Homo sapiens: one gene and its partner. The protein of the gene in region 1 interacts with the protein of each later gene in a pairwise test. Each region holds a gene or a part of one and is shown on either strand. Other genes may lie near its edges.

Region 1 (5,614 bases):
TTACGCCCACTGCAAAGGCAAGGAAAACAGACGATTATCCCCTTTTTGGGCTGGTGCATCCACTGCCCAACTCCTGTGAGTTGTGAATGTGCTGCTAATAGCTCAGAGCTGCCCCTCCTCTAGGGAAGCACCCTCAGCCCAAAGGGAGCTGCTCTTTCCACAAAGACATGCAGTCCCTACCCAACACTCAGAGCCAAAGCACTGACAAGGAGGAGCACCAGAGGGCAAGTCTCTCCCCTCTGCTGAGACTAACTCTGTGTCATCATTCTTGTTCCAGGGCTCCCACAGGGTCAAGCTGAGGTCTGGCCTCCTGCCTCTCAGCTCCTTCCCTTGCCTCTTCTTGCCTCCCTCACTCCCTCACTCCCTGAGAGCACCTCCTCAATAAACCTGTCCATTCAACCCCAGTCTCAGGCTCTGCTTCCAGGGATGAGGGAAGATGGCTGCATGAGCCATGCCCCTTGCCCTCAGGGGTCTTGCAGGACAGATGGGAGACAGGCCACAGGCAAACGACAGGATCATCCACAACACAGGAGGCACAGGTGGAGAGGACAGGGGTTGAGAAGATGGAAGACGTCATTGAAGTTGGGAAGATGGAGAAAGGTTTCATGGAAGAAGGGGGCTTTATGGGTGATGGACTGGTAGGACTGGGTAGGAGACAAGCTTTCCAGGCAGGGAGAAAGTTCCAAGAAAGGTCCGAGATGGGTAGAAACCTTTGCCCCCATCCCTCCCATTTCCTCTTGTCCAGGGTCCATGACCAGGGACACCATCCCGGGGCAGAGGAGGTGGGGGCTCTGTTTAGATGATTGTAATAATGAGTCTAGCGTCATCTGAGAGCATCAGGTCTTCCCTAGAGGGCCATGCCGGCTGACCCTGAGGCCAGGAGGGAGTCACTCCACTGGCAAGCTTCCCTTGAGAGGCCGGGGCTTGGTCCACCTGAAGAGACCACCTCCATTCGAAGGGACAGAGCGCTCAACATACCTGCCAGACTGTGGGCCTAGGGGCTTGTTCACAAGGATTCAGTGATGTAGTAGGCAGCTCCTAGAGCCCCCAGAGCCACAGCCACAGTTCCGAGGGCTTGGAGGACACGCGTTACGATGACTGGAGGGTTTTCTTGAAGATTTTCTGTAGAGCAAAGCAGAAGTGGGGGTGGTGGGAAGCTGGGCTTCAGTGCCTCTCTACGAACAGGAGAAAGTGGAAATTATGTGGCCCCCTCAGGATTGCAGGAATACCCATCTTCCCCCTCTCCAAACTCCTCTTAGGAGAGCATTTAATTCTTCCCATCCTTCCAACAAGTCCCTACTGAAAGACCCCTGAGGATCGGAGGGTGAGCTGGCCTGGGATGCTAGCTGCCCTGAACACTCAGAAGGGGACCAGGTTAGGAAGGTGGTCAAGTCTGCTGTGAGCCAGGCCTTGTGCTAAATACCTCACACCCAGTGTCTTCTTCCAGCCTCACAACAACCCTATGAGGTAAGTTCTATCACTTCACTCCATTGAGAGAAAGGAACTTGGGAAATAATATATTACACCCACACAAAGGCAAGGAAAACATGACTAAGGCAATAATTGTGAGGAGGGCATTCAAAAAATGCAATACCCGTTTTGATAAAAATCCTACAAAAATAGGGATTCTTGTTTAATGTGAATGTGGATTGAAAGCCAAGAGCCAACATTACACTCCATTGAGAAAAGCATGCCAGTGCTAAAATTGGAGCAGAATTAAAACTACATGTCTTGCCCTGGCCAGATATGGACCCTGTCTCTCCCTGCTCACTTTCCTGATTCTGAGCCTCACGCTTGCCTTTTCCTGCACCCAGATTGCTCCCGCTTTTCATCTTAAGCCAGAGAGGACTTCAAGATCCTTCTGGACTCGGCTCACATGCTGTTGACAGGAACCTTTCAGAGGTTCCTGTTGGAGCCTGTTCCTGTTGGAACCTTTCAGAGGTTCCTGTTGGAGCCTCTCCTAGAGGACACAAGGCTCTTTGCATCTTGCATCTTGGTTTCTAAATGCATGGGTCTTAGCTCTCCATGTCGACTGCAACAATTTTAGGGGTAAAGTTCCCTGTTCTGGTTTCCCTCACAGTGCCCCATGTCCTCTGCATAGTAAGTTTCCCTCAATAACACTTGCTGGTTTTAAAACGATATGAACCCATGGCACGATTTGGCCATGGATGGATGGAAGTACTAAGCGTGTGGGCAGGGTGTGGCTAACGGTGGCAGGCAGACCTTTCCTTGACGGAGCTTACTGGGTGGTGGAGTATTTTTGGCTCCAAGCGTGTTCTCCCCACACGCCCCGGTATCTATTTACTTATCTCCATGTGTAGGAGAGATGGAGTTTTTCAGCTCCAGAAAGGAGAGGGGATTGGGTAGGGAAGAGGCTGGGAAGAGGAACAGGACAAGGATGGGGGTTGGGGGGCCTCAGTTCCTGGGGTGGGGGTGTGAGGTCGCCAAGTGGAAGGGCCTCTTCCATTGAGATCTGTGAGGCCCTCAGGTGGGGCAGATGGCGACCCCTCTCCCAGCCCATGCATGTAACCTAGCAGCGCCCAAACGTGGGAACATCTCCAGTCTGTTCCCTGCATGGATGGGGTCTTCCTATGAGGGCGGTGGCAGCCATGACACTGCTCCTGGTGGCTTTTTGGGAAGAGGAAGGAAGGACAGATACTATGGGTGATGTCATGGGGGCCGCCACCAACAGACCAGCCTGGGGGCAGATGTTCCCTGTGGAGACCCCCAGAAAGAGCCCAGCACAGTCTGAAGGGGGCTGACGTCTTGCTATTGTGTGGAGGAGGCATATGAGTTACAAGTAGTTTTTTATCATTAAATTCTGGGCGACATTCGTAGGCAGATCAGGAACCTAAGGCCCCTGCCTATGACACAGGCCACTGAGGGCCCACGGAGGTGCATGGCCAAACAGTGTTTAAACACAAAGCTCCTGAGCGACTCTGTGAAGGGCTGAGGGGGAGAGTGTTCTGAGGAGGGGAGGGCATCTCTGGAGAAAAGAAAAAGGAAGCCCCTGAGGAGGAATCCCAGTGAGGAAGAAAACTGGCACCTCTCTGTACAGGCGGGGTGGGTACCCCGGGGGTGGGGCCGGTCAGAAAGGGCCCTGCCTGCCAACGTCCAGGAAGTGGGCAAAGCAAAGAGGGAAAGAAAGGCTTTCCTTCGGCCTGGGATTCCCAAGAGGAAGTGATACATGATTGCTAATAAGGTCTGGGGGCAGAGCCTGGCCCTGGGGACTGTGTGCCCCGAGGCTCCAGCCCCTCGCGCTTGGAACCTGTAGAAGGTGAGCAGGTTGGGGAGTCCTCTCCCTGGCGCCATCTGCCAGTCCCGAGGCAGAAGGACATCGAAGATGCGGCTATGGCATAGCCCCAGACGACGCCAGCAAGCGGAGCTGCAGGGGCAAGTGGCACAGGAGCAGGAATGCGGGCCGGCGCGAATCAGAGGCCCTGTGGGGACAGAAGGAGAGAGGTGAGGGAGGCACCTGCCCTGGGAGGCTGGGGCGGGGGAGTCTGGAACACAGTCTGAGAAGGCCCCCCACAACGGCAGCAGCTGCAGGATTACCAGGGCGAACGCTGGATTTTTTCCAAGGCATCATTGAGGATTTGGGACTGAACTACCTAAGGAAGGCAGTTCTCCCACAAAATGTTCTCTAACCAAACAGAAGAGAAGACTGACCGCATGGGAAAATGGCTGTTTTATACTGGTGCTACCTGGGAGTAGCAACAGCGACGACAACAACGATGATGATGATGGAGGTGGTGCTGATGGTGCCATGGCTTACACCTTCAGGATGCTTTGCACTTAGCATGCTCATCTCATTTAATTTCACAGTAATCCTGTAAAGGGGATACTGCTGGTCTTGTTTTACAAATAAGGAAACTGAGGCTCAGCTAATTTAAGGGATATGCCCTTTTGGGGAGTAGATTACAGAAGTTGGCTTTCTCAACTCAGGCTTTCTCACGTTTAATTCAGTGAAAATGGAATTTCAGGTGACTGCTCACCTCAGGAGAGGCTGCACTGACATTCCTGGAATTGGAGCTGCCACGTTCCATTGATCTAGAGCATTCTGATCCATCCAGAAGACAACCACAGCTCTAGTTTCCAGTCCCGATCCTATTTTCTGTTTCTGTCCTCCTCTGGTATGGATCCCAGCAGAATGTAGATGATGCCCTCTGTGGTTGGGCAAGATAATTTCTGGCTGGATTATTCCCTCCTGTTTCCTATCTGTAGCCCTGCGTCTTCTTGACAGAGCTACAGATTCTTCTGACCCTAAGCTGCATGAAACAGGTGGTCAACCTGGCAGATTCAATACACTTTCTGCTTAGACTTGCCCACGACACGTACTTTCCCGGAATGAGGAGAGGGGATTCTAAAGGCAAGACTTGTCTTTTTTTTTAATTACAAAAAAGTTTTTAAATTGAGATATCATTCCCAGGCAATAAAATTCACCCTTTTAGAGTGCTCAGTGGTTTTTAGTATATTCACAAAGTTTTGTGGCCATCACCACTAATTTCAGAACGTCTTCATTTCCCCAAAAAGAAACCCCATCTCCATGAGCAGTTACTCCCCACTCTCCCATTTCCCCCAGTCCCTGGCAATACATTTGCCTATTCTGAACATTTCATGTAAATAGAATCATTCGATGTGTGGGTTTCTGGGAGACTGGATTCTTTCACTTAGCCAAGTGTCTATAAGGTTCATCCAGGCTGTACCATGTATCAGGACACTATCTCTTTTTATTGCCAAATAGTATTTCACCATACTCATTGTACTGTGGTATTTCATACCACATTTTGTTTATCCATTCATCAGCTGATGGACATTTGGGTTGTTCCCACTTTTTGGCTATTACAAATGCTGCTGCTTTGAGCATTTGTGTACAAGTTTTGGTGTGCTTCTAATATGCTTAATAAGATGCTTCGAATTCTCTTGGATGTATACTGAGAAGTGGAATTGCTGGGTCATAAGGTAACTTCATGTTCCTCTGAGGAACCACCAGACTGTTTCCACAGCAGCTGCACCATTTTACATTCCCGCCTACAGTGTATGAGGATTCCAGCTTCTCTACATCCTCACCAACACTTGTTATTGTCCATCCTTCTGATTATACCCATCCTAGTGGAAGACTGGCATTTTCTTGAGCTACAATATTTCTGCACACAAAAAGGCTTGGATTTTAGAAAATGGCACGCTTTACTTGCAGGCCCTCATCCTTCATCTCCAACATTCCTTTCTACGCAGAGAATTCCTTTGGAAGAAGTATAGGGTGTCTGCTGTAACCACTGGCGAGCCACCACCATTTCTTGCTTTCTTGCTTTGCCTGTTCAATGGGCCAAATTCTTCTCTGAGTATGAGTCACATGTGTTCATTAAAAGACTTGGGAATGGAAAGTCTTGCTTTCTACCAGTACTGAAGATGCCAGTTCTGAAGATCATAACCCAGAAATGTTTCTCTCACTGGCTGATGATCACAATCTTTACAACATATAGTATGGTGCTCAAAATCAATATCATATGTCAAGAAAGGTTTGATTCCTGGCCATGGAAGGATCATTGGCATGGCATGCCTTATATTTAGCACTCTCATCTCCATCACTTATTTATTTTATGCCCACACAATC
Region 2 (3,500 bases), about 17 Mb from region 1:
GTAAAGGTTCCCCAGTTACTTACGAAGATGGGAATCCCCCATTGAGAATATCCACTTTGAACCCACTCATTCTGCATGCTGAGGCTGAGCCTCAGATAAGCAATTGTAAGGTCTCAATCACTGTTATTTTGTAGCAACTTGAAAGGGGAAGGCATTCCTTTTAACTCACTCAAAGCCATTTTAATGTTAAAAGCCACAACATGCTCTGCAAAACAGAAACTGCATTTTGCAGAGCCAATAATTATGGAATTAATCTTCTCAACCTCTCTACAAAGATCCCCAATTATCTTTGCCGCATAAAATCATGATGCTTTCTAGTTCTTTCTTGGGATAGTATCTTAAAAATGCCCCTGGTGACTCCACTACCCATTTGTTGAGAAATGAAAACCCTCTTTTGTATAAAACTCTTTAAAAACTGCACCTCTATTCTCATAATCCACTGATTTCTCTGTTATTAAAATAAATACAGGCTTCATACTTCATATATATGCTTTTTGTACTCCTTTGCCTTGTGTAAACATCTGACTTAGTTCCTGTGCTTTTCATAGACACTCGTGCAATGGCAGGTGGGTAAGTAGGCAAGGGGCAGTGAATTGTGCTGTGCAAAGTGTTACCTACCTGTTAGTCCCCTCAACTGAGATATCTCTACAGCCTCTGGTTTTCCCTGTTCTTTCATAAGTCTGGTCCTCAGCTCCTAGAACATGTTGCCTTCCATTTTCTTCTCCATATTAAAAAAACAACTAGACGTCAAATGACTCTCCCAAACCTGAATTCCAAAATTCTTCCCACTCAAACGTTTTTACAGATTTAATTTTACAATATTGGACATTAACAATGTGGCACCTATTAATGAGAAGGTTGAAATTTTTGTCTCTGTGTGAATATACCCATTAAAGGGCAAATCAATTCTAAATCCAAATTGGCATCAACAATTTTTATGAGTGTGATGACTTGGCAAAATAATCCCACGGCTTAATTTTCTTATTTCTTTTTTTGGAACAGAGTCTCCTTCTGTTGCCCAGGCTGGAGTGCAGTGGCGCAATCTCTGCTCACTGCAGCCTCCACCTCCCAGGTTCCAGCGATTCTCCTGCCTCAGCCTCCCGAGTAGCTGGGACTAGAGGTGCCCGCCACCACACCCAGCTAATTTTTGTATTTTTAGTAGAGGCAGGGTTTCACCATGTTGGCCAGGCGGGTCCCCTTTTATTCTCTTGAGATTTAAATATTAAGTATAAAATTCAGGGCAAAAACTTGGCATCCTGAAAACAGGCTCATTTTTATAAAAGCAACAACAAACCCATAAGACATTTGACTTGAAAAAATATTCACACCGCACCTTTCGAATATAGAATTCAGAGACCTGGTCCACTGTCTTTGGCCCATAGTGGGAAAAACACAAAGGTCAGTGTCAGCAGGGCACTGATCTTGGGCAAATCCAAATCCTGAATTAGGGACACTGGGAATTGGCTGCAGAAAATCACTTTAAAATAAAACAAGCTATGCAAAAGCTGAAAGGTTTCTTTCAGCTACATGTAGTATAACCTTCAGTGTATGACCTACAACTAAATCAGTACAAGTTCTAAAGTATAAGGAAATAGTCAAAAAAGCTAATTCTAGCAGAATCAGAGTTATAAAAATACTGAGCAAAATAAGAAATTATTTCTTCCTTTGAGAAACTCAGCATTAAGATAGTTAAGCCTACATTTCCAATAAACTTTTTCTGGTAGAAACTGCTATTATAATGTATTATTTATATGCTTTATTTCTCAAAAAGTAGGTTCCAGTGTCATATTGCCGGGGTGCACATAAAAGAAAGATGAGAGAACCTACTATACAGTGACCTTTATCTTAATACAATATTACCAGAACCCTGGAGAATTTAGAGTTTTCAAAAAGAATAGAGAGAAATTCATTTTCAAAGCTTGCATCAGTAAATGAAATAAAAACCCCACAAAAATCCCACAACCTTTATAAATGACATCAGTTTTCCTATCAGGTGACACATGTGGATCAATTTACATTTGAATTTGGTGATCAGAAAATATTGAAGTGTGACCTATGATTTGCAACTGCATAGGGTGAGACAGTACAGCTAAAACACTGGGTAGTCATTGCGATGCTGGGATGGAGACAGAATCCAAGACAACCCTTGGTGAGGAAGGGGTTGAGAGAGGAAGAAAGTAAAGGCAGGACGAAAATAGGCAGTCTTATCATAAGAGAACAATGTGTGCCATTTTAACTGCCCAAAGAGCATTTTTTGTCTCAACTTTCAGTGCTTCTTTAATTAAAATGAAGAGATCAACACATAAACAGAAACTAAATCATTCTAAAGAAATTCTAACTTCTTTATCCTATAGGTTTGATTACAATTTGACCTGGTATGCTATTCATCAAAAAAGGTATTAAATGACTGTTACATAGCTCACACGGTGTTGGGAATAGAGGGGAAAAGAAAAAAGAAAACAGTGTCGCTAGCCTCGAAGGGTTCAATGACTAATGGAAGAGACGAGTGGTTTCATATGATATTATTTCATATTATATTTTACATGATTTAATATTATTGCAGTGTGATGTATTACATTATTGCTGTGGGGTAGATCACTAGAAGTGGTGAGGAGCTTAGATTCTGCAGTCAAGCTGCCTGGCTTGGAGTCCTACTTTTTCCTCTTTCCAGCTGTATGGTCTTGGACAAGTTACTTACACTCTGCTGCTTCAGTTTTCTTATCCGTAAAACAGTGCTAATAAAAGTATAATTCTCACAGTGTTATTGTAAAATAAAATGTGTTATAATATACATAAAGCTCTTCACAGTATCAGACAACAGTTACTGTTCTTGTAGTGATGGTGTGTATAGCAGGCCGTGGGAACATACGGAAGGAGTGATACAGTGTGGGAGATATGAGGTAGGACAGACAGAGAGGGGTTTCCAGTTGAGGTGAGATTTAAATGGAGCCTTGAAGTGGTCCAGTAGGATTTAAACAGGGAGCAATGTTGAAAAAGTGTTCCATACTGTGGAACAGCAGTGCAAACACACAGGGAAAAAAAGCCACCAAGAGTTTGAGGGATTTGGAGAGGTTGATGAGTAGAATCTAGGCTACAGCAGGGAAATTAGATTTTACCCTGAAAACTGTCCTGAATGTCTTTGTGCTTGTGCACCTCATTCTCTTTTTTTCTGCAACAGACTTCCTTCCTCCACTATTAATTTCTCTTTACTTCTATTCAATTCTGTGCTTGGATATAGGACATTCATTTTTATTTATGTTTAACTAGGTCATCTATGTACAGAACAATCCGCATTTTATTTCCTATTATTCTTCAGATGAATCTAAATATTTTGGCCCAGTATTCAAGGCCCTTCCATCCACTCTCCACCGACACATATCTGAATTTGCCTCTTACTAGGATAGCATTTTAGTCATATCTAGCTTCCAATTATACCCATCTCCCTCCTCTTTGCAGACTGTATTCATCCCAATCTCTGATTTTGCTCTGGCAGTTTCGTC

Evidence for each region. Proteins that work in one complex are often made in the same cells at the same time.
Region 2: the proteins of SPATA3 (region 1) and VWC2L interact in a two-hybrid assay, tested with the Homo sapiens proteins (one large-scale study listed by BioGRID).

What each region holds. Positions count from the first base shown.
Region 1 is NC_000002.12:230,998,192-231,003,805, reverse strand, and holds part of SPATA3 (spermatogenesis-associated protein 3), read right to left. Parts: intron 3,441-5,614; coding exon 3,269-3,440; intron 1,176-3,268; coding exon of another isoform or gene 1,123-1,175; coding exon 1,017-1,122; coding exon of another isoform or gene 1,007-1,016; 3' UTR 979-1,006; intron 1-978.
Region 2 is NC_000002.12:214,417,554-214,421,053, reverse strand, and holds part of VWC2L (von Willebrand factor C domain-containing protein 2-like isoform 1 precursor), read right to left. Parts: intron 1-3,500.